Linked DNA regions of Homo sapiens: region 2 is linked to region 1. A link means that fine-mapping ties the variant in region 1 to the expression of a gene that starts in the linked region. Tissue or cell type: whole blood. Region 1 holds a variant in brackets; the other region holds the start of a gene. All regions are shown on one strand. Distances are between the middles of the regions.

Region 1 (2,764 bases):
GCCTGTAGTCCCAGCTACTCAGGAGACTGAAGCAAGGGAATTGCTTGAATCTGGGAGGCGGAGGTTGCAGTGAGCCGAGATCGCACCACTGCACTCCAACGTGGATGACAGAGAGGCCGTCTCAAAAAAAAAAAAAAAAGAAGTATCTCAAAGCTATGCAGTCTTCCTAGCTCTACTGCCAGATCTTACTCTCAGTCCGGTGTCATCTCTTGCCTCTGAACTATTCCCCCTACTTCTGTCCTTCTCCCAGAAATTTTTCTCAGCAAATCAACCACTGAAATAGGACTGTGTTACTCTCTTACATAAATCCTCCAGTGCTCCCAAGCTGCTTCTTAGCCTGGCCTATGAATATCAGGTTCCTGCTTATAATGCTGGATTCCTCCAGTTTCTACCTCCCTTCTCTAAATACTAAATACCCTTCAGCCACACGGGCCTTCTGTGTGCTGGCTGTTCCCTCTGCATCAAACGCTCTTATTCTAGATTGCTGCCCGAGTTGCTCCTTCTCATCACTTAGGACTCAGCTCCAGTGTCACCTCCTAAGATGCTTTCTTTAAACACTCTATCTATAGAAGAACCCCAATGTTACTCTATTGCAAGCTTGCATTTGTAGTAGTAAGAGCAATGAGGAAAAAACTTATAGTTATTTTTAAAGTATATCTAGTTAGTTTTGCCTGCCTCTCCAATTCGACTGTAAACTCTGTGGCGGTAAGAATCATACTACATACTCAATGCCTGAAACAAGGTACGTATTCAAATACTTATGATTTGCTATTGAGCCAAACTGGGCAGAAAACCAAGTTTTAGAATCAGAATCTTAAACACTTTAAAGGCATTATGACAATGCCAACTAACTGTATTTGGATTCTTCAACAATTAACACCCAATATTTAGAACTATTGAACAGAGAAGTTTCAAAATCACATTTCCTTAAAAAAAAAAAAAAAAAAAAAAAAAAAAAAAGGCCCATGCATCCATATTGTGAGTGTATATAATTTTAAAATCCACTGAATTCACAACCAGGGGCTCCAGAAGGAAACAAACTTGTAATTATACTGATGCAACATTTTAAGAGACATTTTATAAACTATACTTTCTCTAATTTCAATAAAAGTCAAAAAATTCCTATCACTTTTAATAAAAATTTAAAAATACCCAACATCTGATAGTTATTAACCCACTGAGTGAATTAAAAAGCCTACTTCCTGGTGGGGGAGGGACATTATGTCCCATGCATGCCATCACTGTTCCTTAGTTTAATCTTGCTTTACCTTTTACCTTCTATTAACAATTTTTTAAATGGTTAAGCACTTACCATAATGTGATTGAAATGCCTGCGGTTTGACAACCTGATTACAGTCGTTACACACCACCAAGTAGAAATCATCATGGGCTGGACAGAAACCAAATATTGGCATGTCTGCAACACAGAAACAGAGCATCACTCACTCATCTGGTTCTGACTGATATAAAACCATTTTG[G/A]GAAACTACTTTCTAAAGGAGTTGCCTTATTGTAAAGTATACCAGGACAAATGAACTGATGTGGTACACCACCACTATTAAACAGAGAAATCAAATCAGGCTTACAGACACACTTTAAAAAGGGTTAAAGTGCACCAAAAATAATTATGATGTGGTGAAACAATCTTTTAAAATGCAAACAATGAATATATTTGCACAATAAAGCAACATTAGATGAACTCTACCAAGAGTTAAGGGAAAGAATCTGCAACCATGTAAACTGCTTAGTTCACAAAGCTGTACCATCTAATGCTTTTGTTTAACTGTGCATTCTATTCCAGCTCTCTGGTTCCTGAGTTCTATGGAACAATTAAGAAAGGGAGCAGAGACAGAGGAATAGAACTGCTGGTTTGCCAGCATGTCATATAAAGAAAATTATTTTAATATATTTTTTCCAAGTCATAGCAACCTCTAGTCCTTTTGCTTACATACTAATGCCACCAGAAAGGCAGAATGAACTTTAGTACAAACAGCATTTCATATATTAATCAGTTTGGTTACCAAAATAGGGTAGGATACGAGCTGTTTGTTTGTTTTAACAGTAAGACAGCAACTTAATTAAATGCAAAAGTAAAACTAAACTGTCTGCATATACATGAAAACTGAAAGTAACTTGATACCTGGTAAATATGGTTAACTAAAACATCTCAACCATTCAATTAATTATGAACAACAATTTGGGGAACAGAGCTAAAAGTTCAGATCCAGAATCTAACTTTTTAAGTATTTCAAAATCAGTGGATTTTAAACAGCATTTTACACTACATTCACTCTTTAGAATATCTGCAATGAATGGATAATTAGCACACTTCAATTTAAGCAAAAGTTTTAGTAGATCAAATACCAAGTTTAAAGGACAAGGGGGAAGATCCAAAAAGCTGATTAGCATCTACTTTCTTTCCTATGAAGATTTAATTTCACACTTTCTCCAGCCGGGGAGATCCTGGTGGTTTTAAAGGGAGAAGAAAATTCCTTAAGGAGATGTCAAGTGAGGATAATCTCTAAAATATCAAATTACTGATCTAGTATCTACACATGGCTATGGCTTGAATTTTCTTAAACAGTTTCTATTACACTGAATTGCACAGATAGCTAGCTATAATCCGAAATATACTAGAGTCTAGCACGATTTGGGGATGTACTTGCAGCACCGAGTAGTTTCTACAAGCTATTATTTCATTTTTATCCTCACAACTACCTAGGTAGACATCATTATATCCCCCCTCTAAAGAAGAGAAAACTGACT
Region 2 (2,500 bases), 89 kb after region 1:
GCTCCAAACAACTACACACAAGGCAACGTTTCTCATTGAGCACCCCCGCCCCCACTTTCAACTTCCCCTTAAGATAGGGACAGTCACATAGACATTTTTTGAAAATCAAAGAGAAAAATAAAAGCACCCCATCACGATCACCGACGAAATCCCGACTCTGTGGTGGAATTGGGTGCCGGGTGAGGACGATGGCAACACGCTCCTGGTCGCTTCGCGAACTCCTCCGGGAGGTCGCCAAGTTTCTCTTTCACCCTTTTTCCCGCACCCGCCGAGCCCAGGAAGGAAGGGGGCGGCCGCAGGGGCCGGAACCGCGCGACCTGGAACCCGGGGCCTTTTTTGATTGCCGGCCGCGCCCCGCGCAAGTGCCGGCGTTCGAGACCCGCCCCAGCGCGCGTGGGCGCCAACTTCGCGGGGACCCCCAGCGACGCGCCCCCCTCGGTACCCCTAGTCCCGCCTCTCCTGGGCTCAGCCGGATCCGGGCGTCCCCGTCACCCTCCCCACCCCCCAGGGAAACGAGCCCACCCCTAGCAGCGTCACCCTGGATGGGGCGGCGGGGCCGCAGTCACCTTCCCGGGGAAGAAGCCGGGACCCCGACTGCGGGCGGCCCGCAGCTCCCGCCGCACCCCCGCAGCCCTGGCGGCGTCCGGGCGAGCTCACCTGGCGGCTGGCTGCGGCCTCCGGGGCGGCCTCTGGGCGTGGGCCGGGCGGGGGCTGCAAGGGGGGCGGCGGGAGCCCGGGCTGCAGCCGGGGCCGCCGCCGGCCGCCAAGCCTCGCCCCAACTCGCGCCGGCCGCGGCCGCCCCCGGGGAGTACCGGGAGCGCGGGGAGCGCGGGTCCCGCGGCGGCGGCGGCGGCGGCGGCGGCGCGGCGCGGCGCGGCTCAGGCGTCGGAGCAGGCGGCCGCGGGCGCCGCCGCCTCCTCCTCCATGGCTGTTTACCCGGCTGCATTGTGGGAGTTTGACCTCCGCCGCCGCCAACCGCCGCCTCAGCTTGCGCCGCCGCCGCCGCCGCCGCCGCCGCGCACGCCATGGGAGCCGTGACTGACGGTGAGGCCCCGCTCGCCGCCACACGCGCCCGCTGCACGGCCCGCTGGGCCTCCCCTGAGACCCCTGGCCTCCCGGCCCGCTTCCGGGAACCCCTCGGCCTCCCCGGCCTCTTCGCCAGAGCGCTTCGGCCTTCCCGACCTCTCCCCGGAGCCCCGGGCCTCCCCGGCTGCTTCCCTGAGTCCTTCCTCCTCTCGCCAGAGCCCGAGCGCCCCTCGGAGACCCTCGGCTTTCCCCGTCCGCTCTCCCGGAGGCAGCGCGGGGCTATAGGGTGTGCCGGGAGCGTGGTCGGTGGGCTGGGAACACACGTGGGTGGCCGAGACGGCTAGAAGCGGTGCAAGGGCGGGTGGGACCAGAGGGAGTCCGGGTTTGTCTAGGGGCGCGGTGAGGACCCAGGAGCCGCGAAGGGTGGACAGTGGTGCCGGGCTTAGGGCTGGGGGCCTGGAAGGTTTGTGGAGGTCTGGGAGGGAGTGGGAGCTCCAGGGACGGGGCGGGAATTTCGGGACTCGTCTACAAGGGGTGTCAGGATACAGAGCGTGACACCAGGAGGGGTCCTGGGGCATATTGGGAAGCACTCACAGACAGTGGAGTCGATGGCAATGAGGCCTTGAACTGCGAGTGGATTGTGGGTGAGAAGGAGGAGCAGGGAATTATTTATAAAAGGAATAGATAGGGATGAGGTATCCGGAGGGTGATCAGGAAGTGTACCTGGGAGATTTACGGGGGTAAGGAGGAGCCAGTATAGTGATGAGACCGTCTAGGGTAGATCAGGACGATAAAAGATGTATGTGTGTGTGTTAGGAAGGGTGGTTGTCAGCTGGGATGAATTTAGAGGGGCAAAGGCTGGGTTTGTGGACAGTCTAAGGGAGATGGTCTATGGACTGAGAGCGGAAATAAGGTGACACTTTGGGGGAAGGGGCATGATTGGCAACTGGAGGGAGAACCTACAAGGTATCTGGTTAGGGAGGAAGGAGGTCCTTTGATATCTGGGAAGGGGATATCTAGGGCTCTTGGGTGTTTTTCAGGAGATGGTGACCGGTAACTGTAAATGCCTGTGGAGAGGCCACTTCTTAAGAGTTGAAGACCACCAGGGTCTCCACATTAAAGGGCCTGGCCATGGGAAGAACAGTGATAGGCCCAAATTTCCAGACTGATAAAGAGTAGTGGAGGTGGGAGGCTACTAAAGACCCAGGAACTTCATGTGGAATTTCAGCTTTGCTTCATTCCAGTTTCATTTATTTAGTGGATATTTATCCTTCCTGGACTAGGCTTTGGGATTACAACCCAGAACTAACAAGCAAGAACTTTTCCCTCTCCAAAATTTTGGTCTGAAGGGAAAGAAACATTGACTAATGAGTTTTAAGAGTGACAAATATTACCACAAGGAAGTACAAGGTTGGGAACTGTAGGAACATGTAACAAAGATTATTTATCCAATCAATGGAAATGAGAAAGCCTC

What was found. PIP is the estimated chance that this variant, and not a neighbour inherited with it, causes the effect.
Region 2: it holds the start of ATXN7, and the variant in region 1 is fine-mapped to the expression of ATXN7 in whole blood (INTERVAL, PIP 0.97).

What each region holds. Positions count from the first base shown.
Region 1 is chr3:63,951,032-63,953,795 of GRCh38, reverse strand. ATXN7 (ataxin 7) reads right to left here. Exons shown (of 13, transcript NM_001377405.1): 5 at 1,313-1,417. Among named protein-coding and RNA genes, the nearest start is that of PSMD6-AS2, 52 kb to the left of the region's middle. The variant G/A (reference allele first, on the strand shown) is at 1,480.
Region 2 is chr3:63,862,316-63,864,815 of GRCh38, reverse strand. ATXN7 (ataxin 7) reads right to left here and starts at 949. Exons shown (of 13, transcript NM_001377405.1): 1 at 658-949. THOC7 (THO complex subunit 7) reads left to right here and starts at 1,011. Exons shown (of 8, transcript NM_025075.4): 1 at 1,011-1,044. The coding sequence starts at 1,026. RefSeq lists silencers at 273-492, 503-742, 1,073-1,292.